5 separate regions of the Homo sapiens genome follow, and all the other regions are linked to region 1. The links come from fine-mapping of genetic effects on gene expression. A gene starts in region 1. Each other region holds a variant in brackets. All regions are shown on one strand. Distances are from middle to middle. Region 1 holds the start of RRBP1 (ribosome binding protein 1). Region 2 has its middle 110 kb from the start of SNORD17. Region 3 overlaps RRBP1 (ribosome binding protein 1). Region 4 overlaps RRBP1 (ribosome binding protein 1). Region 5 overlaps RRBP1 (ribosome binding protein 1).

What was found.
Region 2: its variant is fine-mapped to the expression of RRBP1 in whole blood (TOPMed, PIP above 0.99).
Region 3: its variant is fine-mapped to the expression of RRBP1 in whole blood (TOPMed, PIP above 0.99).
Region 4: its variant is fine-mapped to the expression of RRBP1 in whole blood (TOPMed, PIP above 0.99).
Region 5: its variant is fine-mapped to the expression of RRBP1 in whole blood (TOPMed, PIP 0.98).

Annotation. Positions count from the first base shown.
Region 1 is chr20:17,678,385-17,684,634 of GRCh38, reverse strand. It overlaps RRBP1 (ribosome binding protein 1), which reads left to right and starts at 2,393. Exons shown (of 25, transcript NM_001365613.2): 1 at 2,393-2,607; 2 at 4,560-4,636. RefSeq lists enhancers at 1,723-1,782, 3,036-3,708, 3,900-5,099 and silencers at 2,063-2,482, 2,713-3,042, 3,073-3,122, 3,153-3,462.
Region 2 is chr20:17,853,441-17,859,690 of GRCh38, reverse strand. No RefSeq gene overlaps it. Among named protein-coding and RNA genes, the nearest start is that of SNORD17, 110 kb to the left of the region's middle. RefSeq lists an enhancer at 1-450. The variant C/T (reference allele first, on the strand shown) is at 3,261.
Region 3 is chr20:17,614,915-17,621,164 of GRCh38, reverse strand. It overlaps RRBP1 (ribosome binding protein 1), which reads left to right. Exons shown (of 25, transcript NM_001365613.2): 17 at 358-450; 18 at 795-866; 19 at 1,437-1,532; 20 at 2,486-2,569; 21 at 4,326-4,433; 22 at 5,156-5,239; 23 at 5,636-5,734. Among named protein-coding and RNA genes, the nearest start is that of DSTN, 48 kb to the right of the region's middle. RefSeq lists an enhancer at 5,804-6,250. The variant T/C (reference allele first, on the strand shown) is at 3,167.
Region 4 is chr20:17,645,519-17,651,768 of GRCh38, reverse strand. The region is part of intron 3 of RRBP1 (ribosome binding protein 1); the gene reads left to right. Among named protein-coding and RNA genes, the nearest start is that of RRBP1, 34 kb to the left of the region's middle. RefSeq lists silencers at 2,405-2,534, 3,184-3,273 and enhancers at 2,686-3,389, 3,454-3,543. The variant C/T (reference allele first, on the strand shown) is at 3,252.
Region 5 is chr20:17,625,331-17,631,580 of GRCh38, reverse strand. RRBP1 (ribosome binding protein 1) reads left to right here. Exons shown (of 25, transcript NM_001365613.2): 9 at 1,620-1,758; 10 at 3,899-4,077; 11 at 4,199-4,233; 12 at 5,979-6,069. Among named protein-coding and RNA genes, the nearest start is that of RRBP1, 54 kb to the left of the region's middle. The variant CTCG/G (reference allele first, on the strand shown) is at 3,875.

The DNA of each region.
Region 1 (6,250 bases):
TGGAAGTCTTCACAGCACATTGGGGCTGGCTGTTGGCAGATGAGGGGCAAGGACAGAGGAAATGCAAAGGCTCAGACAGGGCTGCTCTTCCATCCCGAAACAAATGTTGTGTTGAGGCCAAATCAAATGTTAAGTTATGTAAGGGAACAAACAGGGAGCCCCTTTTCTGTAAACACTCCTCACTCCTAAGGACTTTGTAATGTTATCGCTCATGGGACAATATTTACAGAACACGTATATTCACAAGCCTCTATTCTGTGCAGGTGCTGTGTCGGACTATGGTTCACAGTGTGGGAGACACTGCTGTGGCCCCCGACATGCCTCCAGGCACTCACCATTCTGCCAAGGGCTTCTTGCTGCAAGGCTTTCTCCAGCTTGATGGGGGCGGGGGTTAAAGTCCCCCCAGAAGAAGCTGTTAACCAATGAGGACTGGGAGTGGCTGGATAAATAACCAGGTCCTCACCCCTCAGCTGGGACGTCTCTGGGGTGTGTTCTACAGTTTCACAGCATCCCCAGAGACGCCGAGCCCTGTGTGCCCACACCAGTCACAGGCTTGATGTTGGTCCCCTTATTGGCTCCTGCTCATCCCACTTCTCCACCAATGTTTCTTATGATTATCCCCCAAATGAATGATTGAACAAACCCTACTGCCAGGATCTGCTTCCGGAAAAAGATAAACAGTGAACAGGATAAAGGAGGTCCCTGTCCCTGGACAGGCCCTTGAGGGCAGCTGGGTCTTCACTGGACCTATGTGTCATTCTAGGCTGCTTGCCCAGCTTAGCACTGTATACCGGGCACTCCACAAACACCGGTGAATGAATGAATGAATGAATGAACGAATGAATTTCCTCCCTGAAACCCAGAGGAAGGAGTGATTGTCCTAAAGGAGTATACCCATGTTCAGAAAGGTTAGATGGCCCAGCCCTGGTCAAGTAGGACTCATTGGTAGCAATTGCCAGCCAGAAGCTGGGATTCTTGACTTTCATTTGAAGCCGGGTCTCACTGCTGGAAAATGACTGAGTGTTCCAGAGTTAATCCAGGTTAATTCCTGCTGATTAATCATTAATGGGCTAAGGAACCGCCAAGATTAAAAATAGGAATGAACAGTTTAATTTCAACCCAATCGCTCTTTATTCCCCATGAAGGCTTGTATTTTTCACATCTTTCTAACAACAGCTAGTACAGTACTAGTGACAAATGGGGACAGGGAAGATTGAAAATTGTCCAAGAAATAGATGTTAGGCACGGGATTCTGCAGCAACAGGAGCTAGGGAAGTGATGGGGGGCAGTCTAGGCAGCCTTTGGTCGCTCAGAATCCAAAATTCCAAAGAAGCTGGCTTTGGCTCAAGTTCAAAGGGTTGGCTTTAAGAGACGCTGACATAATGGTTAAAAATCAAGCCTAAAATTATTTTAATTTAAAGACTTGACTAATTATGAAGACTGAGTGTTGGCTGATATTGGGGAGAAAGTCAGGGAATGAGGAAGTACCAGTTGCTCCGTTTTGTGGGACACGGATGAGTTTTCTTAGGTTAGAACCTCTCACCTTCCCCAACGCATGGAATAAAACGCCACAGAGTGGATTGTAATTATTGCTCTGCCGGCTGTGATTTGGTTGAGTATCTTAAATAGACCGTGCCTCAGTTGTACCCTCCCTAACAACGAGGGCGATGACATCCGCTTCAATTCCTCGTGCACCTTCTGGCTCTTCCACCCCAATTCCTCCATTTACTGAAGGAAATTCCTTCTGGTGCTGATTGCAATCTCTTTGATGATAAGAACTTGCTCTCCCTGGGCTGACCCCCAGCAGAGCTTGTCCTCATACCCGGCGGCCCGAGGGGGCGCTGCTTCGGGGGAAGTTAGTTGGGTTTAAATAAAGCAGCTTCCTTGGCTGTTCGCGGTTGCGCAACCCTGTTCAGCCACCGCCATGTCAGCCCAGCGGTATCCAGAGGCGCAGGCCCGGGGTCGCCGGGACCCGAACCTTCTGCTTCCCGCCTAGGCAGAGCCGGATCCTAGTCAGAGACTGCTGGGAGCGCCGCGGGCCCAGAGTGGGCGGAGCTGGCCGGAGACCCCCCCCTCGGTGGGCGGGGCGTTCCTGCTCCGCCCCGCCCCGCGCACGGCCGAGCGCCGCGCCGCTCGGCCCCGCCTCTCCCCAGCCCTGCCCCCTTCACCTCCCCGCAGCTCCTCCCCTCTCCCATTGGCCGAGGTGGAGACCCTCCTCTCTGCCCAATGGCCGCCGCCGCGGCTCGGCCACCCGCGTCCTGACTGGCCAGCGACCGGCAGAGTGGCGGGGTGCGGACCAATGGGAAGAGGCGGCTCGATGAATGGCTGGCCCGGGTGGGGAAGGCAGGAGGCGGCGATCCCGGCGGAGGGGGCCGTTCGCCAGCTCTGAGGCAGAAAGTGCCACGACTCCACACGCGCGCACGCAGCCAGCGAGCGGCCGGAGCGGACGGCAGACGGGGCGGGCGGCGTCAGGGTCGCAGCGTCTACAGCTGCTCGGGGGCGGTTTCTTGGCGGAGGCTTGGCCGGCTCCTCTCTCCCGGCTCCGCGGCGGCTGCGAAGGCGGCGGCTCCTGCCCTCTCGCTTTCCCTCTCGCGTCTCTGGCTGCAGGTAAGAAACTTGGCCGGGCCCTGCAGCGGCCGCGCGCGGGCCGGGCCGTCGGGGGGCCGGGGCCGGCCGCGCTGCGCCGCGAGTGACACGTCTCCTCGGCGGCCCCTCCCCCGGCCCGCCCGCCGCCCGCCGCCTGCCGCCGCGGCCGTGCACCATCGGGGTCGGGGTCGGACTCGGGGCGGGGGTGCCGGGCAAGCGCCGTACCGGGGCGTAGGCAGGGCGCGCCCCGTGGTGTGGACCCCGCGGCCCTCGCCGTCCGGGGAGCTGCGGCGGCAGACGGGCGCGACGTGGCGACCGCTCCCTGCCTCCCTCCCTCCCGGCAGGGCCGTCGGGCCGGCCAGCGCGCTCCGAAGTTGGGCGAAGAAAGTTGGCGGCGGGGCGGGGCGGGGCGGCGCACAGCTGGCGGAGGAAGGGGTTAAGTTTCGGGAAGCCGCCGGATGACGTTGCCGGGCTGGAGTCCGGGCCGGAGGGGTGGGGTGCGGGCGGAAGGCGGCGGAGGCCGGCCGAGGGGAGGAGGGCGGGATTGAATGGGGGCCCACGGGCCGAGCGCGCCGGTCCCGGGCCGCGGCCCGCTGGCGCTTCGCGGGGCTGGGACGGCCCCCGACGGGGCGGGCCGGGGCCGCAGGGCTCGCGGCGCAGGGACCGGGTCTGTCCATGGCACGGACGCCGGGCGGCCGCGGTGGCAACTTCCCGGAGTGCGGGAGGCGGCTCCCTGCTCCCCCTGGCGGCGGGGCCGGGGCCACCGTTTCCCCGGCTGGGCTGCGCGGAGCCTGGCTCGAGGGCTCCCGGCGGGGGGACGAGGGCGCCCGGGGCCCGGCCCGCCCCGCCCGCGGCCACGATGAATGGGCCGGCGGTGCCAGCCCCGGGCGGAAGCGGACACCTCCGGGCCGGCCAAGCGCGCTGGCACCCGGCCTGGTGCCCGCCCCGGCCCGGCCGGCTCTCCCGCTGCGCCCTGATTAGGGGAGGCAGGCCGGGGTCTGCGCTTCCAGTGGGGCGCCCGCAGTGCTTCAGGGACCCCTCTCCGAATGATAAGTCGCGAGTTTTAGCTCTAGAGTGCCCCGGCTGGCGAGGGTGACCCCGACCAAGTTGTTTCGTTCGGGGTCTCCATTTCCTGGTCTGCAAATCGGGGCTCCTGTTAGCTTCGATTTGCGAGGAAAGCTGTGGAGACCCAGCACTTGTAGGAAGGAGCCACAAGTGTTGGCTGTTCAGTTGGGATGCTTTTGTTGGGGGGTGCTGGACACGGGAGGAAGGTGGGGCCTGGCTCCGGCACTGCGGCGGGCGCGGGGCTGCAGAAGTTGCACAGCCGGGGTTCTACACCCCGGACCACGTACTGGCCGCCTACTCGCAGGTCCCATAGCCCCTCTGAATCCTAGTTTCTTATCTGTGGCCTGAAGACAGCACCACCCACTCACAGGGTCGGGAACCACGCCGGGAAGTGCTGGGACCTTGTACAAACAGAAGGCAATTTGGCAATTACTCTGAGAGGTCAGAGGTTAGGAGAGACTGGGAAGCACCAAGGAAATGAAACTCTGAGGGACCTGAGGAGCCTCCCACGTCACTGCTCAGCTATTCACTCTGCGTGCTGGAACCTTCAGGGTAGGGGCCATCTGGATGGCATTTTCAGGAATTTGGAGAAATGGGCCTGGTAGGGCCTCATATCTCACATTAGATACCTCTTCAGAACTGGGTGTCCCCAGAGACCCAGGACGTCTGTCTGGCACTCCCAGGAAGAACAACTGCGAATGTTACCCCGCCCTGTGCAGCTGGGGGGCATTCTCCCACTGCCCCGCCTCCCTCCTCACACTCCTTGTTTGATTTAACTTCCTGTTAATCCGACACCTAGAGAAATCTGTGACCCTGCAGCATGTCACTTACTGTGTGATGTCTTGACTCGTTTACGAACTTGCCAAAGGTCACTCCCACTATCATATGCCAACCTCTTTCCCTTCCAGAAAGAAGCTTCCGGTTCTGAGGTCCTGGAGGTGCCATTTCCCTCTCTGTTGAAGCAAAGGCCGGGGCAGACCTCCTAGTAGGTGAAGTTTTCCTTTTACATGGAGCACCGCAAAGCCGGCTTGCAGGGATCTTGGGCCAGTGGAGGCCTGGAGGAGGCTAAGGTTGGGGGAGGGGAAACCAGAAAGGGATCTTGGGGTTTAGGAGAGGGTTTAGAGCTCTAGGCACTATAACAACTCTCACCTTTCATACTTAGGAATCTGCCTCTGAACATTTACAGAGAGATTAAGAAGTTACAGTGGTTCATGGTATATGAGTATTTTTTGGTGATGGAAGAGTTTTAAATAAATCTTAAATCAAGTCACATTTGAGCAATTATGCTCTTTAATGAAATGAGCCCTAACTCAACAGGCTGCAATAATTACATAGCAGCAAACTCAGTTTAAATGGTTGAATGCCAGTGATTGAATTGGAGTATTGATTTATTATGTAGCAGGGACACCTTTTAAAAGTGTCGGGACCCCAGACTCTTCTTGTCTTTTTAGCCCTGGGAATTTTAACTAATAGATGAATGACACATAGAGGATCAACAGTTCTGTTGAGACAGCAAGTTTTTCTTTGCTAAAATCTTGTTTCAGGAGAAACAAAAATAATGGTCAAGTCAGAATGATGAAGGCAGGGACTGTGCTGTCCGTCTGTGCATGCTGGGCCTGCAGTGGTTAAGGCCTGGCCTATAACATCATAAATATTGGTTATACCAGGCGGACAGCGCCCCCATACCTGTTAAACTATTCCCAGCTGTCTCATTGGATAAATGAAGCTTAGCCCAACTTGGTTTTTAAGGTTCACTTTTTAGAATCAGATTCCACAACTGTGGTTTACATTTAGGCCTTAAAATAACCCTGTTCTAGGGGGTGGGAATGGTTGTCACCCATTCAGTGGATGAGAATGTGGAGGTCCAGCTGGTCAGAAGGTTGTCAGGCCAGTTCCTGTTGCCCAGTTGCTAGGCGATGTGGGCCCGGCCTTCCAAATGTTCCCTCCTGGCTATATACCTCCACCTTCCTGGGGCAATAATTACCCAAGGGAGGACACAGAACGTGAAGATCAAAATTAAGAGCTTCAGTGGCAGGAAGGTGGGGAGGCATTTTGAAAATCTGGCAGTGCTGAAGGTATTTTTCATTTCATTTTTTTCACCGAGGGTCTCCTGTGTGGTGGGCCTTCAAACACCGCAAGTGAGACCTAGTTCTTGCCTGAAAAAGCTACTGTCTAGAACTGTGTTGTCCAATACAGTAGCCACAAGTAGCAATTTAAGTTTAAAACAATTCAAATTAAGTAAAATTAAAAATTCAATTTCTGAGTCAAATTAGCCACATTTCAGGTGCTCAGTAGTCATAAGTTGGTCAGCGTGGCTGTAGATGGTTTCCACCATCACAGAAAGTTCTAGACAGTGCTGATGTAGAGGCAGCTGGTATTCTGTAAACATTCATGTCCCTGTTCCTCTTGATCATGTGGTAATATGTTGAACCACATGAAATTGCCCATTCTGTAGGTCAAAACCAGTTGACTAGTGGCAGTTGATACACTTCACCTGATAAGATCTCACCCTGAGAAAGCATTAGTCCCGCCTCTTTGTGTGCATTGTAAACTGCATTCCAAGAAAAAGGAGTGGGAGGGGGGCCACACAGATAGTGGC
Region 2 (6,250 bases), 180 kb before region 1:
CCCTCCCTCAGGAGCCTGGGCGCGGGACGTCCTCATCGGTTGGAGAGAGGCGAGTTACCTGTGCTCCCGGTTGTTTAGGGGAGAGCGAGTGGGCTGGCCTTTCCCTAGGAGAGGACTCAGCACAGGGCAGGAGGCTGTCCTGGTGGGATCTGGCCTCTGACGACCACTCACTCTGAGGAAAAAATGATGTGTCCCAAGACCACCTCCAGTTAGGTGGGCAAGGCAGGGCGCTCTAGGCCAGGGGGCTAGGTGGACAGGTGAGCCCCTGACCACAGCCAGAAAAGCCCTCATCCCTGAAGGCTGCCATGAGGGGAGGCGTGGGTGAAAGTGGCAAGAAGCCACTTCCTGGTGACCCAGTGGTAAACACTTGAGGTCAACCTTGAGCATTGATCTGCCAAATATTTGCCTGGGTCACTGACCTAGCATACTTCCTGCCTTCATCTCCTCCCCAGCTGCAACCCGACTGCCCTACCCCTTGATCCTGGAGGGGTAGACATCATTTCCCAGAGAGGCCCTTTCCAGGCACAGTCCCCTCTCATGGGGCATGGGCTGTGGGTGAGGGTGGATGGGCTGGGGACTGGGGCAGGCATCCTCATGGGCCCTTTGAAGTGGCTACCCCAGTGAAGCTGGTCTGAAGCGGTCAAGGTTCACACAGCTGCCCACGCAGAACCAAACTCCACAAGGACCAGGCTGCCAGGGCTCCCTCCCCAACAGCTCCATCACCCGACCCTGGGAAAAAGAGAGACCTTGCCTCTCCAAGCAGGCAGGAGGAGGCCAAGGGGTCTCTGGCCAGGGCCTGGAGAGGCTCTCTCTCTCTCTCTTTCATCACACACACACACACACACACACACGCACACGCACACGCACATGCACGCACGCACGCACACACACACACCCTACTTCCCCTGAGTGCCCACCCTGGGTCGGTCACCATGCTAAGTTCTGCACAGACACTATACCCCACATTGTTGTAACCCTCTGTGAGTTACGTTGCTCCATTTTACCAAGTTGGAAACCAGGATTCAGAAATGTTAGGCAACCTTTCTGAGCTCACACAGCTGCGAGTGGGGAAGCTGGATGTCAGATCCCAGGCTGCCGGATGGCCTGCAGCACCCAAGAAGGAGAGAGAAGGACAAGAAGACCATGCACCTGTTCTGGGAGAGTCTGGGACAAGAGGAGATGTGAGGGCTGGTCGGAGGCAGAGCCGCTGTGCCTGCAGAGCACTGATCATTCACAATCATTTCCCAAAATCGCTTACAGGGAGAGAATTAAACCAACTTGCTTAAGTCATTGTTGTTTGGGATTTTCTGTCACTTGAAGCAAAAATGGTACTAAATAAAACACCTGTAGTCTAAGCCCCTTCCACTAGGCTGGCTGCCTGCTCTCTAAAGGCACCTCTTTCTGTGCCTGGCTGTTCCACAGGCTGCAGCCTTCCCTCTGGCTGTGGCTATCTCTGTATTTCCTTCAAGGCCCAGCTGAAAAGACCACCTCCTCCATGATGCCTTATGTAATTTCTACACATCAGAAATGATGAGTTCCTTTCCCTGCTGTCTCCAGTCTCTCAGTTTATTTCTTGTATTGAAGTCATCATGCCTGATTGGCATGTGATAATCTTCCATTGTGTATCTGTCTTACTCCTCAAGTTGGAAGAGACAGTATTTCCTTCAGCTTAACGGGGATGGTGTGTGGGTAAACCAGCTCTCCAGGAGAAAAAGCACCCTGATTTGTAGTGCTAGCCAATTCCCATGGTGTAAACGCTCCCACCATGGTCAGTTTCAAGCTATGATGGTTTAACAACTGGCTCAAAAAATTCCTGAGCATTTAACAGTTGGCTTTCATGAGTCAGTGCTAGCAGGCTCCAGCTTGCTACTGCTTAGGGTCTACCCACTGCAGAGGCTTAAGGCTTGCATTTAGTAGGCGTGCAACAGGCTGGTGCCACAAACTCTTACTTGGGTGTATTATTTGATTCAACACTTTTTTTTTTCCTGAAACCCCTACTTTGTTCCTAGAAGAATTTTAAATGGATATAGGGGAAGATCATTTGCAAACATGGTGACAATCCTTCCCCCTCCCTAAATCTATGCCCCTTTCCAATGTGACTTTGTAGCTTCTGGGGCTGATTTCCAGTCCTTGAATCAGGGATGGCCTTTTGACTTGACTTAGCCATTGGAATATGTTGGGAGTCACCTTATGACAGTTCCAAGCCTGGGCCTCAAGAGGCCCTGAGTACTGCTGCTCTTGTCTTGGGAGCCTGTTGGTTACCATGGATAAAGCCCAGGCTACTGTGCATAAAGCTCAGGCTATGCTGCTGAGGATGAGAGACCACGTGGAGCAGAGGCATACTGTCTCAGCTGAGCCATCCCAGATCAGACAGGCCCAGCAAACCCAGCAGCTGACCAAAGACATAGGAATGAGCCCAGCTAAGCACAACCCAAATGGCTAATATGAGGACTCATGAGCTAAATAAACAATAGTTATTTTAACCACTACATTTTGGAGTGGTTTGTTATGCAGCAAAAGCTGATACACCATCTTTGCATTCAGAAGTAGCTTAGCTTTTGACTGGAATGTCCATCTCTATCTGAGTGAGATATAGATAGCTTCATATTCCCTGCTATCCATCAGCCAAGAGCAAGAAGACCAAGTGTCAGCACCATTGGCCCTCCCAGCACGTAAGTTCCAGTAGAGTCTTACATCTCTCCCTAAACACAGCCTACAGGAACCTGGAAGATGTGGACGTTCTGGCTCCCTGATGGAAGAGTTGGACAAGAGGCATGGAGTCTGTGTCTATACACCAGAGTTAAGGTGAGCTCTCCTTGCCTTTGACTTTGCCTGTGCCGTGAAGTCATGCGGCTGGAGCTGCTCTTTTCCTATTAGTCAATGAAGACTTAACTGCCATTTGTGGGAAATGTCCAGCCAGGAATGGGAAACTCACAAATTCTTCTCTTTTCTGCCCCATAGAATTATTATTATTATTATTATTATTATTATTACTATTTTTTTTTTGATAGGACAAGAGGATCCTAATGTATCTGGGTTGGGGAAGAGAGAAAGAGCTGTGTGTTAAAGCTAACAATAATTTTCTACTTTCAGTTCAAGAGTAAAATCTCTCCTGTAATCTGTGAAGGAGTGTGTGAAAAACAAAACAAAACCCAACCTGCCCTCCAGGTTTGAACTGTAGAAACTCTGTGGTAGAAAAAAAAGGCATTCTAGGGAAGAAGAGAGGAAGCAGGCCATGAAACAGATTTGCAGCTGCAGGA[C/T]GTGGTGGTGTGTGGTTCCCCTCTAACCAGCTGTGTGACCTTGGGCAAATCTCCCGGCCCCACTGGGACTGCATATCACATGGGGCTGGACTAGAGAACCCCACTCCCTAGAGGATACAGTATTTTTATGAGGGAGAGCTGGAGAGGCTCCTGACTTTTGATTGTTTACCCCTGGAGGTGTGTACAACCACGTGCCATTGACAGACAATGTACCCATTGTATGACAGGGAGGTAGTGGTGCCTTCCCCAAGTTATAATTGGCCTTGGGACACAGTCAGTACATACACACCCAACATTAGACACTCCATCACTGAGCAACTCAGTGCCTCTCATTCACAAGCTGTGTGATCCTAGGAGGTTATTCCACTTCTCTGATCTTCCATTTCTTTCTGTCCCTCCCTCCCTCCCTCCCTCCCTCCCTCCCTCCCTCCCTCCCTCCCTCTCTGTCTCCCTCTCTCTCTCTTTCTTTCTTTCTTTCTCTCTTTTTCTTTTCTTTCTTTCTTTTCTCTCTTTCTCTCTTTCTTTCAACAGGGTCTCACTCTGTCACCCAGGCTGGAGTGCAGTGGCATGATCTCGGCTCATTACATCCTCAACTTCCTGGGCTCAAGTGACCCTCCCACCTCAGCCTCTGGAGTAGTTGGGACTACAGGCATGCACCACCATGCTTGGATAATTTTTTTTTATTATTTGTAGAAATGGGGTTTCACCATGTTGCCCAGGCTGGTCTTGAACTCCTGGGCTCAACAGATCCTCTGGCCTTGGCCTCCCAAATTGCTGGGATTACAAGTGTGAGGCACCACATCCAGCCTGATTTTCCATTTCTTCCTCTAAAGTGTCATGTCATGTGAAACTTTTACAATGCTGGATTGTAAGAAATATTGAATGAAAAAACATATATAGTGATACTGTATGATTCAATACATAGAACATATACAGAAGCTTATTTTTATCTATTCACTTACAGGAAATCATGTTGACCAGAAGGTCTAATTTGGCCTCAAGCAGCCACACTACACTCAGACCTTCTGGGATTTTTCATTTTTCAGTTTCAGGACTTTTTTGTTCAGTTATATGTGTACTGGAACAATCTTTTTTTTTTGGCTATAATTTTTTTTAGGTTTTATGGAACACCCTTGGTGCTTATCTCAAAGGGTTATCAAAAGGATTACATGAGGCCAGGCATGGTGGCTCACACCTGTAATCCCAGCACTTTGGGAGGCCAAGGCAGGTGGATCACGAGGTCAGGAGATCGAGACCATCCTGGCTAACATGGTGAAACCCCGTCTCTACTAAAAATACAAAAAATTAGCCGGGCATGGTGGCGGGCGCCTGTAGTCCCAGCTACTTGCCAGGCTGAGGCAGGAGAATGGTGTGAACGTGGGAGGAGGAGCTTGCAGTGAGCCAAGATGGCGCCACTGCACTCCAGCCTGGGAGAAACAGCGAGACTCCATCTCAAATAAATAAATAAATAAATAAAATAAAAAAGGATTACATGAAATAATCCACCTAAAGCATGAAGGTTAGTTCCTGGACCAGTGGATGCTTCATCTATGGCAGCTACTATAGTGACTTCCCCACAGTGCTGGATGTTTGCTCTTGCTAATGCGGGGATTGATCTCCAGCTCTGGCTGGCAGGGCCTCTCAAGAACCCAGCCATCCTGGTTCCCCAGACCACAGGTCATCTCCCCACCTAAGATCATTCTCCCACAGTCCCCTCCTGTTGGGGATAGGGTGACAAAGACTTCTCCCTTGCTGCTCATGCTCTCCATTTCTGTAGGAATCAGAAAAGACGCAAAGCTGTCAGCTGAGACAATCTTCTGCCTTCAGGTAGGCACAGGGCCCTTCTCATCCCCATCACACAGCTCAGGCGGTGGAGACTGTCACTTTCCTGTTTGTCCTCAGATCCATCCCTCATCCTTCTCTGCTGTGCTGTGTTGCACGGCCCTGACCTCTGTGGACTACATTTCCCAGGCTCCCCTGCACCCTGGCTTCCTGACAAGTTCAGTCAATGGGAAGCAGTGGCAGGAGATTGAGCTTGGTAGAAGAGAGAAGCCAGGAATATTCTCTCTCCAGCCCTTTCTGTTTCAGGTGATGCCTCCAGCAGTGGCCAAGTCTCCTCCATAACTTCGGCTCCTAATAATACCCTCTCTTCCCTTGTTCCTCTAGCCCTGGGGAAGTAGCAGTTTCTACTTTCTGGGTTGCTCTACCCTCCCGTTTAGGTTTTCAGCTCTTCCATCACCTTTGCAACTACAGGTGACCCTTGAACAACATGGGTTTGAACTGCACAGGTCCTCTTCTACATGGATTTTTTTCAATAAACATTTTTTGGAGATTTGTGATAATTTAAAAAAGCTTGCAGCATGGTCTAGAAATATCAAGAAAATTCAGGAAAAGTTAGGTATGTCATGAATGCATAAAATATATGTAGATAGGAGTCTATTTTATCATTTACTACCATAAAATATACACAAATCTATTCTAAAAAGTTAAAATTTATCAAAACTTACACATACGGACACAGACCATACATGGTGCCTTTCAATCAAGATAAATGGAAACAAACGAAGATACAGTATTAAATCATAACTGCATCGAATTCACTGTACTGATACCATACTACTGTCATAATTTCATAGCCACCTCTTGTTGCTATTGTGGCAAGCTCCTGTTGCAAGTATCCACTTAAACACCATATGATGCTGATCATCTCCCTGTGAGCAGTTTGTCTCTAATGATACACTGCATATTGCAGTGAAAAGTGATCTCTTCTGGTTCTCGTGTATTTTTCTTTGTGTGCAGTGCATACCATAAACCCTGAATAGCACCATGAGACCCACATGAAGTGCCACTAGTGGTGCTGGGGGTGCTCCCAAGAAGCAGAGGAAAGCCATGACATTACAAGAAAGTTGAATTGCTTGATGTTTACCATAGATTGATGTCTGCAGCTGAGGTTGCCGGCTATTTCAAAAACAAATGAACCAGCCTAACAA
Region 3 (6,250 bases), 63 kb after region 1:
GAGCAATGCCAGGTCTAGCCCTGCCACTCTCTGGCCAGCCCATCCTGTGCTCCTCGTCCTGGGCCATTGACACACTTGGTGCTGGTGGCAAACCCCGGCAGTAACAAGCATCCTAGTGGTCCTGTGCAGGTCACAGACCTCATTTCCTTGCCTGGCACTGCAGCCACACTGGCCCACTGGCCAGAGGACCTCCCTCCCAGGACAGTGGTTGCCTTCCCTCCCCACCTAACGCTGGCGCTCATGAAGTCAGCAGGCGGAGCACGGCAGGTCACCAGGGCTGCAGGGACAGGAAGATGCGGTTGTGTGGTGCGGGTCTCGGGAGGGAGAGGGCCCTGCCTCACCTCGGTTTCCCCCCAGGAGGGCATGCTCAGAGACCTGCAGAAGAGCGTGGAGGAGGAGGAGCAGGTGTGGAGGGCCAAGGTGGGCGCCGCAGAGGAGGAGCTCCAGAAGGTATATGCAGCCCTGCCTGCCTCCCGGCGCCGTGGAGCACATGAAGCCCAGGGGAGAGTTGACAGGATTGTCTCTGTCACCTGTGAGACTCGTGTGTCTCGGTGGGGCTTTTCCACGACACCCTATGAAGCACAGTTGCGGGATGACAGCTCAGTCCGTCCTCCAGGAGGCCCCCGCCTAGGAAGACACTGCCAGATGGCGCCAGGGTGACCGTCCCAGCTGGGCGGAGTGGGCACCCCCGGGGCTTCCTAAGTTGGGTCAGTCCCGCTCGGGTCCTAGCATGGCCTCGGAAGGAGACACCCCCAGGTGCTCGTGTCTGACGGAGCCTTCCCCTTGCTTTGTAGTCCCGGGTCACAGTGAAGCATCTCGAAGAGATTGTAGAGAAGCTAAAAGGAGAACTTGAAAGTTCGGACCAGGTATGTGCTCTGCTCAGAGAACTCTTTCTCTTGTCCCGGGAGCCTCTTTGAAAGTGACGTTAATGCAGAGGACACTTCACTGATTTCTTCCTCATGGACCGTGTGCCTTAAGAGAGGCATTCTCTCTCAAGCCAAGGGATCTTGTCCATCCTGTTTTTCCTTAATGAGAGACATTGACTACCTCAGAGGACCCTGAGACCCAGCCACGGGCCCTGTGCAGACCTGCCCAGCCCTGGTGAACAGGGCTTCTGCCACGGCCTTCACAGTCAAGGTGGCCCCACTGCCCCCTTCAGACGCCACAGGGAGCCCTGGAGAAGGTACCCTTGGTACCTGCTTTTGCAAGTAAATCTAAGAGCATGTCAGTCCCCAGGAGTGCCCGGGTGCAGCCTGCCACTTTCCGTAAGGGGTTCTCTTGCCGCGGACTAGTTTCTCGTTTGCTTGGTAGCTGGTGGGCCTCAGGGATCTCCCGAGAGGCCTCACCTATCCCAGGGCCAGCCTGCTCCCTGAGGTGAGTGCCCTTTGAGCAGAGGCTGCTGGCGCATGCGTGTGCGTGTCTGTGCATCTGTCCAGGTGAGGGAGCACACGTCGCATTTGGAGGCAGAGCTGGAAAAGCACATGGCGGCCGCCAGCGCCGAGTGCCAGAACTACGCCAAGGAGGTGGCAGGGGTGAGTCTGCCCCCCAAGGAGTGCAGCCCCTGCCCAGCAGATCTGCGGTCCTCCCTGAGCTGCTTCTCCTCAGCCCTGTGGGAGCAGCTCTCGGTGACATAAGCCTTGAAGTCCGAGTCCTCAGGCGTTTGCCCGAAGCCTCACAGGCCCCTCGTTGGGCTGTCAGGCCTGAGGTGTCTCTCAGGGCAGGTTTCAAAAAGGCAGCCTCCCAGCCAGGACAGGGGCAGAGCCAGGCAGCCCTGCCCCGAGGGAGGCGTTTGACGTTCTAGGTTATCCCTCCGCAAGGGGATTCTCTGCCTGGCTTGCTGATGTCATATCTGGTGGGGAGTGGATTTAGATCTGACACTTTTTCTGCTCTTCAGAAGCAGAAGCACAAGCCCAGTATCCCAATTCTGGTTTAATCTCAAACTTTTGGGCCAGGCACAGCGGCTCATGCCTGTAATCCCAGCACTTTGAAAGGCTGAGGTGGATTGCTCGAGGCCAGAAATTTGAGACCGGCCTGGGCAACATAGCAAGACCGCATCTCTACCAAAAAAAAAAAAAAAAGCCAGGCACACTGGTGGGCACCTCCGTTCCCAGCTGCTTAGGAGGCTGATGCAGGAGGATTGCCTGAGCCCAAGAGTTCAAGACCAGCGTGGATGACAGATTGAGACCATCTCTGAAAAAAAAAATCATCTCCAACTTTTGGCCCTTTTTTGCCAGAGATAATCAGTAAACATTTGTGAAGGCCTGAAAGAGGTACGCAGTGAACACCATTCTTCCTAAGTCCTCAAAAAAGAAATCGTAGCTGTAGGAAGCCTGGCGAGCCCTGTGCCGGCCCGATGCTGTGACCCTCCTCAGGGTTTTGGTTAAGTGGATGTGTTAGGTTTTATGTTTCGGCGCTAACTCACGGGGACTGGTTTTCTCCTTTTCTCTCCTTTTTTCCCATCACCCGCCTCTGTTTTCTCCCCAAGCTGAGGCAACTTCTCCTAGAATCTCAATCTCAGCTCGATGCCGCCAAGAGCGAAGCCCAGAAACAGAGCGATGAGCTTGCCCTGGTAGGTGGCCTCCATGTCCCCATGCCAGGAGTGTGACCTGGGGCGTTGCGTGTGTGAGATGCATTTGCCAGTCATGCGTTTGTGTCCACTCAAAGATAAAGCCTAGGGAAGGGACAGTGTCACCCGTTGAGCAGCATGGGGCCGGCTTCTGGGGGCCTTCCTGCACATTTGCCCAGAACTCTGAGCTGGGCCTGTGGCTGTTGGGACCAGGGTGCTCCCACTCCATCTCCCGTCCCCTGGCTACCTGGTCCCCTGTTCAAGGTAGTGAGAGCTCTGGGCGTCTGCATTCCCTGTGAGCCCATTGTAGTCACCTGGGGGCGTCAGGGATATTGCAGTCCCTGGCATCACAAGACCAGGAAGCCTGGGGGTTCCTCCTGGCCTGGCCACCCATCGCCCTGGGGCTCTCAGCAAGTCCCGTGCCTTCTGTGGGTTTTCTCACCTCAGTGACAGCTCAGATCAATTCAGTCAAAGCCACAGGCATGCAGGGAAGACCTGCTCCACGCCCGGCCCCATACCAGCTGCCGGGTGCAGAGAGCAGCCCCCTTGGCAGACCACTGGAGCTCTGCCTGTGCAGGTGGCCTCTTGAGTCCCTCCTGG[T/C]GTTCAGCTCAGGTGTCTGATGCCAAGTCCCAGCTCCTTGGCAGGCTCCACCCAGCCTCACCGGATCTGGTACCGCCCCAAGGCTGGTGTTGTGAGCAGCACCCTGTGAGGCCGCAGACATGTTCTGTTTGATCTGCGGTGTTTTTTTAAATCTTGAATTAGTTGTCAACAGGGAGAAATTGGGAAATTTTAAATAAAAATGGGCTGGCATTCCCCCTGCAGCAGCCAGTGAGTCCGGCACACGCTCCCAACACCCTCGGTCCCCCTTGGTCATTCAGGTCTTACCCGGACCAGAACACCAGAGGGCAGTGCTGCCTAGGCCAGGTCTCCTCCTGTGTCTAGGGGCCACTCACTGAAGCCTTGGCTGAGCGAAGTCTGGGTGACAGGCCCCGGGGGCATGGCCCAGGCCGGGGATGTGCAGAGAAAACCCCCTGGAGTTTCTGTTGTCTTCCAGCTGTGCAGTTCGTTATTTGCATTGGGAGGGGCTGTTCAGAGGGAGGGAAGAATGTCTGGGGTTCCCACGTACCTGGGGTGGCCCCTCAGCGCAGGGTCAGAGACCGCCCATGTTCCCTGGGGAGCTTATGCCAAGGGCCCCACCTGGGTCTCCAATTGGAACCTCTACCTGAGCCTCTCGAGTGACACCTGCCCTTCAAATTGCAGGCCCAGTGGTTTGGGTGCAGCCAGATATGCCACCTAACCCCAGTGATGGAGCGTAGGGGTGGGGGACCTTGTTAGGCAAGAATGTTATCTCATAATCTTTTCTAGACCCCGGAAAGGGCTCTGAGCAGTGGACTGCATCCTTGAAGGAGAAACGGGGGGTGTAGACAGTGTGGCGGCCACCCCCCGGTTCCATTCGGATTCCTTTGCTCTGTGGGCCATGCCCATCAGGGGTCACCTCACTCCCAGGGAGGGCTCCCCTCCGGTTGGGCTTGGAGCAGAGCACATTGGGTCTCATTAGCCCAGAGGCTTGGTGGCCTTGGTTTGGCTCAGGTTGGCGGCGGGGGTGGCCAGACATAGGTCACAGTTACCAAGCCAGGTCCCCTGAAGGGACTTTGGCTGTTGAGAGCAGCTACGGTCCTCCGAGGGGGTCCCTGCAGGAGTGAGCATGGTGGGTGTGCGACTGGCTGTGCATTTGCAAACACACCCCTTCCTGTTCCAGGTCAGGCAGCAGTTGAGTGAAATGAAGAGCCACGTAGAGGATGGTGACATAGCTGGGGCCCCAGCTTCCTCCCCAGAGGCGCCCCCAGCCGAGCAGGACCCCGTTCAGGTTAGGGCGGTGAGCTGGTCCCCAGACACATCACTAATCCCAGAAGAGTGCAGGCCCTGCTGCCTCCGTTCGGACTAAACCCCGCACTGGCTGCTCCAGCCTCCGCTGCTTCCCCACCCCACCCTGCTTTGCCCCATTTGGATCATCCAGGTTCGGAGAAAGCCACAGAGCATGGAACAGAAAGGTGGCCAGGTGGAGAGGCTGGAGGAGTTGGGGGGAGGTGGGACTCGAAGAGGGAGTCCGTGATTTGGGGTCTGCACCTACAGGGCTCAGGAGCAGCTCTGGGCAGGGTCTGCAGCCATCGAAGGGGACTGTCTCCCACTGCAACCCCGGCTGGGACATCGCTAGCAGGATATTCGCTCTCCAGAGTTTTGAGCCCGGCAATAGCCACCAAGAGTCCTCACCAAGAGGCAGGGCCTGTCCCTGGGGTGGCCATGGTGTGGCTGTTAAGGGGGTTGTCATGGGGCCAGGGCTCGGAGGCATCGTTCTTGTCCTGTGAGTCTCGTTAAAGGCCCCTGAGGTTGCAGAGGCCCCATCAGCTGCTCCTGAGCCACACCGAAGTCTGTACCAGGGGCTGAGGTGCCCTCTCCCCAACGAGGGGAGCGTTGGGGCAGGGAAAGGGGAAGCTAGAAGCAGCTAGAGAGCGGTGCCTGTGCTGGATCCCTGGGCCCCTGGAGGGTTCCTCACCGGGCTGCCGGGTTATGTTTGCGGTGTTTGCACAGCTGAAGACGCAGCTGGAGTGGACAGAAGCCATCCTGGAGGATGAGCAGACACAGCGGCAGAAGCTCACGGCCGAGTTTGAGGAGGTCAGGCCCTGCCTGGTGGCTCTCAGCCCCCATCAGCCCCTGGGCCCTGAGTCTCCAGGGAATGAGTGGGTCAGCCCTGCCCCGCTCGGCTGTGCCCAGCAGCACCTGGGCTGGGCCTGGGCCTTCTGGGCAGCAGTGGGTGGGGCCCGGGCAGGTGGAGCACAGGCTGGAGGCACCTTGGGAGCCCTGTGGGTGGTCTGCATCCCTGAGGAGCCTTGAGGGCCTGGGGCTGGGTCAGAACTTGTGGGTCTGGCCCACTCATTCCAGCTACAGGATGGAGCTGTTGCTCCATCAGGCTGGGGGGGCCCCCTGGTCCCCAGGCGTGCTCGGTAGGGTCTTGACAGCACAGCCGTTTATAAGACGTCTCACCCAGACCTCACTTCCCTCTCCGGCAAGGCTCAGACCTCGGCATGTCGGTTACAAGAAGAATTGGAGAAGCTCCGCACAGCCGGCCCCCTAGAGTCTTCAGAAACAGAGGAGGCCTCACAGCTGAAGGCAGGCAGGGGCTGGGGCGGGGGTCACACCTGGAGGGTCTGCTCTGGGGCTGGCGCCACTCTTGGCCTCGGAAAGGGGCCAGGAAGGGGAGAGCCGACCCCACCGGGACCTGCCCTTGGCACTGGTTCCCCTTGTCACTACCCGGGGCTGGGGTGGGGACTCCTAGCCCTGCAGTGTCACATGGTCACATGGCAGCCATTAGTCCTGGTGGCTGTCGAAATGTGAAGCATGTAGAACGTGAAGTGCGTTCCTCAGCCACACGTCCAGCGCTCAGTAGTCAGGTGTGTCTCCTGTGCTGCCTTGGACAGTGCGGAGTAAACTGCTCCTGCCCCAGGAAGTTCTGGTGGTGCTGAGAGCACAGGACCCAGCCCTCACGGTCAGCATGGGCGGTTTCCTCCCTGTCGTCACCACCTATCTCCGGGTGACCAGGAGTTGCCTTCCTTGTGTCCCCAGAGGGCTCCAGCCCCTGGCGTCAGGGTCCTGTGGGCATAGCTGGGGTGGCCCTCCTGCCGGTGC
Region 4 (6,250 bases), 33 kb after region 1:
ATTACATAAATATGTGTTTCCAGCAAACAAAATTCACAGTATGGAGGCATGGAAGGTGAAAATAGAAAGTCTTTTTGCTCCATCCCAATCACCATCCGCTTCCCGGGGGTGGAGGGGCGGGGGGGTAAATTCATTGTGCTCTTCACATGGGCACCCACAAACGGGAGCTGCAGTGCACACTGCTGTCTGCTTAACAGTGTGTTGGTGACATCTTTCCGTATTGCACCTGCGAAACTGCCACATTCAGCTGCATAATATTCCCTAGCATGACTGTATTGTAATTTATTTAAATGACATTTAAGTAGTGTGCAGCTATTTTGCAGCTAAAATTAATGCTGCAATGATGTACATACACTGTTGTGTGTCTCTACAAAATAAAGTCCTAGATAAGTAATTGTCAAGTCAAAAGGTGGGTACGTTTTTAATTTAGGAAGACAGTGCTGCATTGCTTTCCAGAAACGTTTCACAATTTACGATGAGAGGCCCACAAGATTTGTTTTCTGACTCAGCACTCCTCACACGGTGCTGCTGTGCTACTCTGGGAATGATTCTAACTTCAGGAAGTTTGGGGAGCAGGGAGCATTATAAACCCAGACGTGGGATAAGGAGAAAGCCTCTTTCTTTGGAAATGAAAGGCACAAATTCTTTACTAAATATTTGGAGAGGAGGAAATTGATGGGATCCTCGAGAAGTGGAAATTCCCCAGAATGGAAGCTTCCCCGTGTTCCGGGTACTGTCAGCTGACGCACGTGTCCAGGCTTTAGCTGGTTTGTTCTCCGATAGTTAACTGAGCACCTATGCACAGTGTCTATTAGGAAAGTCAAGTTTCTAACACAAGACGTGTGTGTATGCAGTGGTGTTGGTTTTTAAAAAAATCTATTTTTATCCTCAGATTGAGTCTTTGTTTGCAGGATTATGCTGGTTTGCCTCCCACCTGGGCTGCCCTGATCTTGTACTAATCACCATCTGGGTGTTACACTGGCAGGAGAGCTGTCCCACCCAGCACCTGGAATCAAGTCTGGATCCTACAGTGTGGGCGTAGACTGAGGAAGTACATATGTACATTCTGAAGACCCCACAGTTAGCATGAGCTCCAGAACAGTGTACTTTTAACTGGAGCTTGCTTCACTCATTGTTGCTGCTGGTTGGAAACAGGTGTTTCCTCATTACCTCTGCTAGCACGTCACTCAGGGGATGCGGGGATGCAGGGTACTTGTTGCACTCTTGGGGAGTCTGGAGCTCACCCAAGGACCTGTGACCTTTCTGCCTAATGGACGGGGGTGGGTAACCCTGGGGACATGGCACTTCTGTCTTGGCTGTGGGCCTGCTTTCTGCGGGGCCCTCTTTCCCCAGCCTGCTGATGCAAGCCAGTTTTACTCTGTGGCCAGAGAGACCATTGTGTCATGGCCCAGGAGAACCCACCCAACCTCCATGAGGTGGCAAACACTCAGAAACAGGCATTTCAGAGGCCCATTCTTGCCACGTTGTCAGATAAGTCCATGTGGGAAAAAGAGGCCACCTTTGGGAGGTAGGATTATGGGTAAATGTTAGTATCTTCCTTTCACCCTTCTGCATTTTCCAGTTTTTCTATAACTTTTTTTTTTTTATGGAGAAGAAACAACTCCATTATGTGTCTCTAAGTCAAATAAACAGGCCCTCATTATACCAAAGCTGATGGAACTCTCATCCTTCTGGGTGTTTTGAGGCAGCCCTGTGTCCTCTGAGGAGCAGCAAGGAACACGTTGCTCCTTTTGGGGTCTGGAATGAGGAAAGGTAGTGCCAGCTCTTCTGAGGCCTCCAGAAGGAGGCCAGTGCGTGTCCCAGCCCTAGCACACAGGCATCTGGGAGGCATTCATGAACTGAGGTAAGGTGGGAAGTTAAAGGCAGTTCCCACATTCTGGAGCCTGGCAGTGCCGTGGTGGGAGGGGGCCTGTGAGCTCTGTGTCGTGTGCAGTCTCGCTGAGCCCCCATTCTACCCCTACAATAGGAAATGTAACCTAAAATCCCAAGTCGTGTTCTGCAATCTAATGGGGCTGGGGTCACAGGTCAGGGGGTATGGGGAAGAGTTGTCAAGCCCCCAGGAAACGGTATTCAAGGTGTCTAGGGTAGCAGGGCCCTTAAACAATTTGACTTCGTGATGGGAACACCCCTTGCTCCCAGCTCCTCACCCACCCACCCACCCACGCCTGTCCTCCCCATGTGTAGCCTGCTTTGCTCCAAACCCAGCGCTGCTTAGCACAGCAGGTCTGACGCCACTGCTCTCCCCAGCCAGGTGTTTGTTCAGATGTGCAGTTTAGGAGGCTGGTTTCCATGCCTTTATCCCTCGTGCAATTCTCTAAGGTGGATTTGAATTTTTACCTGTTTGACAGAAGCAGAAAGCAAAGCTCAGACTTCCCAGAAGTCATGCACATGACCAGCAGATGGCAGAGCGGCCGGTGTGGGCAGCCCCTCCCGAGGCCCCCGCCCTGCCCGGCAGGTGCCCCTGTGCCCTTCTCGCCGGCAGTTGCACAGAGAGGTGTACACGGAGATCAAGTCAGATACTTTTTCTTTTGAACCTAACTCAGTTTCTCAGGGTCTGAAGCTCTGAAGAAAACTCTCTGGGGCTTATGACCCTTTATTCACTTTCTGTGGAAGTTCTTCAAACCCAACTTTTTCTTTTCTTCTTCTTTTTTTAAAGAAGAACAAAAACATCCCCTAGGGAAGCGAGCCAAGTATCAGTGTGAGAAGCTGCTAGATGACACTCTTCCAGAAATCTCTTTTCAGCCACTTGAAAACGTGTTGAGGCTGGGACTCCGGTCACTGCCCCCAGACGGCTGTGGTCAGACAGCCTGGGATTAAAAATCCCCTGCCGTTTTCTGCAGGCATTAGGTAGAGTCCTAATTGCTGTTTAAACTGTATTCTCCTTGGGCCAGCCTGTGTGCCTTGGGAAGGGCCTTGCCCAGAGGTCCTCCAGGAATTGTCGTTCTTTTAAAAATATTGTGATGTGGGTTTTTTTTAACTCCAGGTATAAAATTGGTTTTGTTGAAATTTGGAGGAAAAAACAAAACTTTAAAGAGGAAAACAGTTCTTCAATCTATAGGATATTTTAAATTCCATTAGATACCATTAAATATACCAGTCCCCAAGTTTGTAGCCGATTACGTTTTTCTCCAACTAAAGGAAAAGGACTGATTGAAAGGCCCTGAATTGGGTTGTTCTTGACATTATTTGTACTGAGCTCCATTGCCCTTAAAGCTGCGGATGTGACCGTT[C/T]GTGGCATTTGGGGTCAAGTGCAGCTGCGCCTCCTTGGCCTGCTTCCTGTCAGGAGCGCTGAGCAGCGCTTGGGCAAGGCCGGGCTCTGTGGCCTGAGCTGGGCCTGGAGTCCACTGTTTGTGCACTGCCCAGGGCCTGCCTCAGCTGTGGGCAGATGAGCAATGAGTGAGAGCAGGAGTCGCAGTTTGCCTCCAGGAGCATTTGGTAGATCTTCATTTCCTCCAGGGTCTCATAAAGCTCACTTCCCCCACAGGCTCAGGAGGAGCCTTCACGGCCACAGTCCAAGAACGAGCAGTTAGAGGCCAGCAGTGATGTTGGCCGGAGCTCCTCCCTAGAGAGCGTCTTGCGTCCCACCTCGGGGTGGGACCCTGAAGGGAGCCGGCTCCTCAGGTTGAGAGAGACAGAGATGCCCTTGGCTTTGGGTCAGCAGGAATGGGGAGCTTGTCCTCAGCCTCTGAATCTTGGTCTGCAGAGGCTGATGACTGCTTGCGTGGTGCTGGGCTTCCAGGAGGCATGTGGGAGCCCTTTCCTGGGGCCCCAGGGTCTTCACCTTCTTACAGCAGACCTGAGTTTGGGTCGGGTGACTGGGGACTACAGGGCGTGGAAGGCACGCCAAGATTGCGATCTGGCTTGGGCAGCCATGCTGGGTGCCTTGGTCTGCACTGTCTGGAGTCACCCCGTGCAGGCCCGGAGGCAGCAGCTATTCAGACTACATGTGTGTGTCTGAGGGAGGCACCCTCAGAACTGATCTGGACAATCTCTTAGGAAATGAGAGTTTTTGCCACTGGAGTTCTTCCCCAAGCCCTCAAGTCCATGCTGTTTCAGGTTCCATTGCCAGAGTCCCTGGGTTGACACCTGGGCCTCTCTCCCACCAGCTCAGCTTCCTGAATACTCGGGCCCAGATCCTGGTCCTGGGCTCTTAGGACCCAGCGGGGATAGGCTCTTAGGACCAGGGTCCAGGCCAGCTGGTCTGCCTGCTTCCAGCCGCATCCCCCTGGGCATCCTGAAATCTTTTTCTCAAATTCAAACGCTCCTTCCTAGGCATCGCTTGTTGCCTACAGAATAAAATCCAGATTCCCAGGGCCTATGAAGACTTGGACCTAGTCCAACCTCGGGTGCAAGTCTGACACGCTAGGGCCCAAAGCCCCTCACCGTGTCCTTACCCAGCTATGCTTGGCCCAATGCCTTAAAGCCTTTCTCGGCATTGCTGCCACAATTGTTCTCCAGGTCCCCCTTGTGTCACTCTTCTGCCTTATGGCCCTGTGTCCTCTGCCTCTGTTGGCCACAGCCCAACCTATAACTTAACTTTCCAGGCCCAGCAATTTACGAACTGCTGGGTATGCAGGTGGTACATACTTTGTGTCTAGAGACCACCTGGCCCTGCCTGCCCTGATCAGGGCTGCTGGGCACCTGTAGCAGCAGCTGGAGCTGAGCCGGAGCCTTTTGTGGGGCCCATCCCAGGGCCAAGGCGATAATCCCCTCCTATTAACCACCAGCTGCTGCCAGGGCTCAGGCGGCAGTTCCTGGAGTGGTTCTGATACCCTCCCCGTGGACTGAGAGAGCCAGGTGTGCACAGTGCAGGGGTGCTCCAGCAGCTGATGTGGGGGGCTGGCCGCTGAGTCTCATGAGGCCACTTAGGGCTGAGATCCTCCTTCTATGCCTGAGCCCTGGCCATGGGGGATCCTGGAAATTATACAGAGAGAAAAGCCTCATCCAAGGACGCCACAGTTGACAGTGAGAGAGAACACTAAGTGCCTCTTTGCCAGATGAGTTTAATTTTAGGTGCCTGAGCCTCCCAGTGTGGTCGCAGAAGGGAGAGTCATTTTGAAATTTGGGGTGTGAGGTGCGTTATCTGAGCTGCTGTGAGCTGCTTGAAGGCCGGCCATGCTGATTTATTTTGCTGTGCGTTACCCTGCGCCAGGCATGGTTCCAAGCACGTTGCAACTTACTCTTTTCAGCCACGCTGTGAGGGGAACAATGATCATCCCCGTTTTGTAGGCAAGGAAACAGAAGCAAAGGAAGGTTAAGCCACTTGTCCAAGGACAAAGGTGGGAAGGAGCTGAGCTGGGATTCGACTCCAGGCCACCTGGTCCCAGAGGCCTTGCTCTGACCTTGGTGCCCCACTGCCCAAGGACAGAGGTGACCTGCAGACTGGACGTGGCCCACGGATGTGTTTGTTCATCTGTACAGTGGTTTCATTCATTTATTTGTTTTTTATTGAGTTAGCTGTCAGCAGTAAAGATGAGAAGATAGCACTTAAAAATCTCGTTTCCAGGCTCTTGGGCAGGCCTGTGGCTTTGAGGGTTCTGGCTCAGATTCCCCCATTGCAGCTATCACCTGGAGGTGAAGTGCCGTGCCCAGGACCACCCAGCTCAGGAGAGGCCACCCCCCTGAGCCCAGGCCTGTGTGGTTATTTGTCACAGTACCTGTCCCATTCCTGCAGGGCCTGGCCCCTGGGGTGTTGCTGTGTCCCCTGCCAGACAGAGGTCTGGATTATCCATCAAAGTGAGACACTGGCCTGCGTCTCTACTCTTGGGTCTCCTGCTCCCTGGTCACTCCCCAGGCCTCCTGGCCTGTCCCTTCCTGGTATTTCATACCCACCAAGATGGGCAAAGCGTTAGCCGCAGGAGCAAGCCCTCAGGGAGCTGAGCTTTTCCAGCATTCACTGCACCCTGGGCCTTTTGAAGTCTGTGATTTCACAGACTAGGTGTTGAGTCTGAGAGACTTAGTTTAGTGCGTTAAGATTTCACAATTCGGAAGATTACTGGTATCTTCGAGTATTTGCTGGAGCCCTAAGTGATGTGCTGGGCACGCCTTAGGCTCCCGTTAGTACGTTATTTAAATGCAACTCATCTGGAGGCCCAGAAATCCTGCCTCTGCTTCTGAGGGCTTTCCTTTTTTCTTTCAGTTGTGCTGCCCTTGATTTGGGGACAATTGAGACAGCAGAGTTTTTACCTAAAAGATTTAATGAAAAATGATTTGTAAAGTTATAGCTCTC
Region 5 (6,250 bases), 53 kb after region 1:
GGGACCCGCTTCTGAAATTGTTCAGTGTGATTGGCTGTGCTAACAACATTCTCTTCAAGGCAAAGACAGTTGTCACCTGAGGTCTTAAGATGGAGGCCCGTGGTTTCCATCAAAGATTTTAAGTTTGGGGTTCCTGAAGGTGGGTGGGTTTTTGTTTGCTTGTTGCTGGAATCAGAGTTCTAATCAATGTTAGTAACAAACGGAAGAACATGTGTGGTCAGTCTCCCTGCAGTCTGAGCTGGAGTCCCTTTTCTTAAAGAAAAAAAGCAGCAGCAGCTGGTGTGTTTTCTTCCAGTCGTGTAATGACCCTGCCCTATGTATCCTGGTCGAGGCAGAGGTGTGAGGGTGTTGGAGCCGGTGGGTGCAAGGCAGGCTCCTGCCCGGGACACCTGGCAGAGGAGAAGCAGGTGTGCTTTCTGGGAGCAGCTTGCAGTCACTCCTTTCTTTCATTTCCTCCCTAGGAGTTGGAACTGAGTAATCCCCTGCTACGTTCTAATGCAGAAAGCACTGCCCATCCTAAAGCTGCCCCCAGTTTTCACTGCACAGTACACGTGAACCACGGCCTAGTGGCCACCTCCTTGGTGATGGCTTCACTGGCTCCAGCCACGCCTCTGCCCGGATGGTGCTCATCTGAGCAGTTACCCCAGCTCCAGGTTGTGCAGCCATTGCCCTAAAAGAAAATGAAAATGGATGTGGATGGGATCAGCTTGGTAAAGGCATTGACGAGGGATAACTCACAGCCTCTTATTCAAACAGCAGTCATCTGTTGATGCCCCTCTTACCTGGTTCTGCCCCCAGACAAGCTTGTTAATGAATAATCAGTGGTCGGGCTTTTTGGAGAACTGAGTTCTCCAAAGGGCTGGTTAAATGGAGGCCTTGGCCAGCACTTCTGCCCCAGTGTGTGGGAATCCTTTACAGGTGGATGAGGGTGTCCTGTGGAGCACCGACTGGGACTGCCAGAGCCTGCCTGACACTGAGCCGGGAACTGGGCAAACACTGAAGCTCTGTGTGGCTCCTAAACAAGGGTGTGGTGGGCCTGTCTGTCCTGAGTGAGGAAATGTCTCTGAGATACTTTTGAAGCATGTGAAATTGCCATTTTTGTAGGTAAAAATGGTCAAACACTGACAATTTCACGTGGTTCAACCTAATATTAAGAACTAAGAGCACTGCCCTATAGCGTGATCGCAGTGGTGCACCGTGCGTGTGTGTGTGTAACATGTGGAGCTGCAGGTGGGAGACCCACCAAGCTGTCCGCCCCTGGGAGAGGAATCGAGGACTGGATTGGGAAATGTCGCTAGTTTACTCTGAATCAGTATCTTTGGACTCTTGCAGTAACCATGTCTTCATGAATCACTTGAGAATGTAAAAATAGGGACTCAGAAAAGAACTGGGAAGTGAGTGTGGGTCCCTGGCAGCTGCCTTCTCCCCATGAAAGGGTTCTGGCCGAAGTGAAGCCTGTGCGGGTTCTAGAGCCTCGAGGGATGCATTTCCTTCCCACATGGACCAGAGACTGCACGGGGCTTTGGTGGGGTAAAGAGCTCTGTCCGCCTCCACCGCAGAGCCGCTGAGGGCCTGGTCCTTCCACGTCTTCACTGCCCCACTCCCCTGCCCGTCCCCAGGCGTCCCACAGGGAGAGTGAGGAGGCCCTGCAGAAGCGCCTGGACGAGGTCAGCCGGGAGCTGTGCCACACGCAGAGCAGCCACGCCAGCCTCCGGGCGGATGCCGAGAAGGCCCAGGAGCAACAGCAGCAGATGGCCGGTAAGGGCGGCGGCAGTGGGGCCGGGGGTTCAGTGCAGGGTGCTGGGTCTGCATGCCGGCCCAGCCCCACTGCCAGTGCCAGAACTCAGTGGGTTAGGCCTGTTGGGTGAGGGCAGCACGGATCCCTTGACTGCCCCTCAGAAAGTCAAAGAGCAGGGGATTATGCCCAGTCAGGGGCTGGCGGGGGGCGCAGTCAGCCTATAGGCGCAGTCCAGAGGTGGGGGGATGGAGCTGTGAGGATGGGACCTACAGGGGCTAGAAGTGGGGGGCAAGGCCTGTGAGGGCCTGGTGCATGGGAGCAGGGCATATGGGGGTGGAAGGCACTGCTTCCCTCCCAAGCCTGGGTCCGCAGTGGCTGTGGATGAACCAGGGAGATCCTGAGGCGTCTCAGCTAAATGTGTGTTCTGGGCCTTTCTACTCTCCCAGCTCAGTCAGCCCAGAAGGCCAGGCAGGATTTACAAGCCTGTGGTTCCCTTGCTGCAGTCGATCATGGAAAGGGTGACAGGGATGGAGGGCCGAGAGCCCCTGGAGAAAGGGAGCTGAAGGTGCCAGTGAGAGGCCCGTGGCCCTTGGCTCACTGGCGCTTCCCGAGCCCCTCCCCAGGCCAAGCACTGCCGTGGGTGCCGGGCTGGGCTGGACTGGGGGTTACACGACAGAGTCACCTGCAAGGACAGGATTGCACAGCAGGGCCCTCTACACAGGGACTGTGTTCAGGGCAGGGTTGGCAACTGTTTCTGTGAGGGATGGATGGTGAATGCTTCTGGCCAGTCTCTGTCACAACTGCTCAGCTCTGCCACAGTGGGCAAAAGTGCCCGTTAACACCGGGTGAACTGTTTCTGTCGGGGATGGATGGTGAATGCTTCTGGCCAGTCTCTGTCACAACTGTTCAGCTCTGCCACAGTGGGCAAAAGTGCCCATTAACACCGAGTGAACAGAGGGGCCTGGCTGTGTTCAAAGAAAGCTTCATTGATATCACTTGGAAAAATGGAGGTTGGGAGGCACGGCCCCAGCTTCCCGGCCCCTGCTCCAGAGGGCTGGGCATGGCTTTAGATTGCGTGGTCCTGGAGACTCTCTGAGGCAGGAGGGGATGCATGGCAGAGGCCAGCACAGGGCCCGGAGGTGGGAATGAACTGACTTGGCCTATGTGAGAAATGGGCTAACAAGTGTGGCTGGAAGGAGAAGGCTGGTGGCGGGGCAGGGCCAGGTCACCCTCCCTCTGAGGAGCTTGGGCACCGTGGAAGGTGTGACAGAAGTGCTTGGGGCAGGAGATGAAGTCGTCTCATGTGCGCTTCTGGACACTGACACCAGGTGGAGAGCAGACCAGAGGGGCACGAGTGGCCCATGGAGACCAGGGATGAGGCCTTGCAGTTGCTGAGGCCCAAGGCAACAGGGCAGGGCCCAGGTGGCCGCAGAGGTGCTAGTGAAGAGGGCAACTTGACAGATGGCGGGTGTGGGCTCGTAGGCTTCGGCAGTGGGCGAGGGAGGAAGATGAGGAGTCCTGGGAGGTCGGGATGTTGGGTTTGCGTTGTCTAACTAGAGCTTCATTTAGAAGAGGCAGATGGCAGAGCCTGGGGTTGGGGAGAGTGCAGCCTCAGAGGCACGAAGATGACACTTAGACCCATGGGACTGTCTGAGGTGACCTGAGGAGGAGGACACCTCAAGGGGAGAAAGGGGCCCAGGGCAGAAGAGTCACCCCCTGGCCTTTCTCGACTGTGAAGAGGTCTTGGGGGTTGAGGGGGACCCAGCCAGGGAGGTGGGGGAGGTGTGGCAGTGGGGTCCACCTAGCCACTTTCTAAGGAACTTCTGGTCTCAGTAAGAAAAAGAGTCTTCTAGAAGATGAATCTTTAAAAGCCTCAGCTGGAGTCCGTTTCCACTCTCTATCATTTTCTCATGAGTGTCCTGAGAGCATTGCATTCTACCCTGACGGTTCTCAGAAGTGATGCCAGAGTGGCACTTTCTTCAACCGCTAACAAGAGGCCCCAGTGGTCAGTAGTATGTCTTAAGAGCCCCAGACACACAGAGGAGGCAGGAGGAAGCCCTCGGTGCCCCACATGTGCTAAGAGGGCAGCAGTGAGGGCATCCTCCACACCCCCTGGGGTTTGCAGTCTCTTAACTT[CTCG/G]TTTCCCTTCCTCTGCACCAGAGCTGCACAGCAAGTTACAGTCCTCCGAGGCGGAGGTGCGCAGCAAATGCGAGGAGCTGAGTGGCCTCCACGGGCAGCTCCAGGAGGCCAGGGCGGAGAACTCCCAGCTCACAGAGAGAATCCGTTCCATTGAGGCCCTGCTGGAGGCGGGCCAGGCGCGGGATGCCCAGGACGTCCAGGTCAGCCTTCTGCCTGGGGCCACGGGGAGGAAAGGGAACTCCATCTAGCAGGTGGGTGGACTAGCCCCGCTGCGTGAGATGAGTCTCCTGGAGACCAAGGAGCTTTTGTCTCTCATTCCAGGCCAGCCAGGCGGAGGCTGACCAGCAGCAGACTCGGTAAGCTGGGGAAGCAGCCTGCCTGCTCACTTGAGCCTCAGCCCGGGGGACCAAAGACCCTTGGGGGGCCAGGGTTTTCAGGAGGGTGCTCAGGTCCTCTGCAGAAGAGCCCCTTTCAGAGGCTCCCTTCCCTCCCCCATCCTCCGGTGATTTAGAGGACGGGACAGGCCTGGGCGGGAAAGAAGGCGGCCTTGCAGAGAGCTTCGTGATCACATCGTTCCAGAGTGGCCTCAGCCAGGGTGGGAGCACCCCCTGCCACCTGCCGTCCGTCCATCCACCTGTCCATCTCTCTGTGGGAAGGGACTGACTGGTCAGAGGTTCTGTGTGTACAAGCAAGGGATTTTAGGGGCTGAGGTCAGGAACTCTAACAGGAAAAATGGTTGCACAACCCAGAATGGCGAACCCAGGCTTGCTGCTGGAGCACAGGTTTGAGGCGTCGGGGCAGAGCTGGCAGCGTCTCAGCGTTGTTTTCCTCCATCTGTGAGGTGACTTCACTGCTGGCCAGACCTTGTTTTCCCTCCGTGTCAGCAGCACCAGCGCCAGGCCATGTTCGGGGAGTGTTTATTTGCTGTTGCTAAGGCCGGCCAACACCTGGGTGGGGTGGCTCGAGTCAGGGGCCGGAGTCCTTGTGACCATCACTTCTGGGGCTCGCCTCCTGTAGCACATGCCCACAGTCTGGGGAGGCAGGTCCTGGCCGCCGTGGCTAGGGGTCCATGCAGCAGTAGGTGGGGGAGGCATGGAGGGTGTCCTGCATTCCCTCGCACACGGTCAGATGTGTCCTAGGCCATCAGTTCACAAAGTTCCCTTGTCCTGACCCTCGTCACCAAAGAAGCACCTCCCTGTGTGCCTCTCAGCAGAGGCAGCTCCCCAGGCCACAGCCCATGTTCCCTGGCATTTGGGCTCTGCGGCTTGGGGACTGGGAAAGGAAGCCAGCTGCCCTGAGGGCCCAGAATGACCCACAACCAAACCTTGTCCACCTTCCTTTCCCAAAAAGCATGGGCAAACTTTGTTTCTCCTGGTGGTGTTTGTTGGGGTAGAGAGGTTGTTGTTTTGCTCTTGTGTTTTAAGATCAGATTCTTGGGCCACACAGCATATTACTAGGATAATGAACTCATGTTGTAGTTAGGATTAATCTGAATTTTCTTGCATCATGTAGATGTGTCTGGCAGAAATTGGTGCTTTTATTTCCTTCTCAAACAGTTGATCTGAAAGTTATGTGTAGGCTGGGCCATCCTGCTCTGGAGTAGAGAGGAGCGATTCAGCCCCAGATATTCTAGAATTCGGGCAGTGGCTGCCAAGGGTGTGATTGTCAGTGTGTCCTTGCCACTGGCCTGCTGACACCTCTTCCTCGGAGTCTCATTCTTTTGGGGACGCTCTTGGGGTGATTTGCCGGCGGAGGCTGTCACATGATGCAGGGAAAAGCTGTGAGGGCCCCAGGAGAGCTCTGAGGGCAGGGTCACGATTCCACCTCTCCTGGAAACCCAGCTCTCCGGTGTCACCAACTGGGACTCTGGTGACAGCTCTGGGGTCAGTGCTCTGGATGGCGGGGGGAGGGGAGGGTGTTGGGGGCTGCTCAGGCTTCCCTGGGAGCTCACGCTGGGTGAGGTGGGGGCAGCCAGAAGGGACCGTCCCTGGCCAGATGGTTCAGCCTCGAAGGTACTCCTCCCTGGATGGGGCCTCAGGTGGGATCTGTAGGGGCTGTAGCCCCTTGGAGCCTAGGCGGTGACCTCGTTGTGTCCCTTCAGCCTCAAGGAGCTGGAGTCCCAGGTGTCGGGTCTGGAGAAGGAGGCCATCGAGCTCAGGGAGGCCGTCGAGCAGCAGAAAGTGAAGAACAATGTGAGTGCGGCAGGCACAGGCGGGGACGGACGGGCCAGGGAAGCACAGGTGGGGCCGGGAAAGGTTCTGCTATGTGGCACCCGCCCTGGACTCGGGGGAGGGCTGAGCTTGTGTTTCTACACCCCATTGTGCTGTGGGGGTCCAGGGTGTGGGGGGTGCTTCTACTCACCCCTGAGTTCCG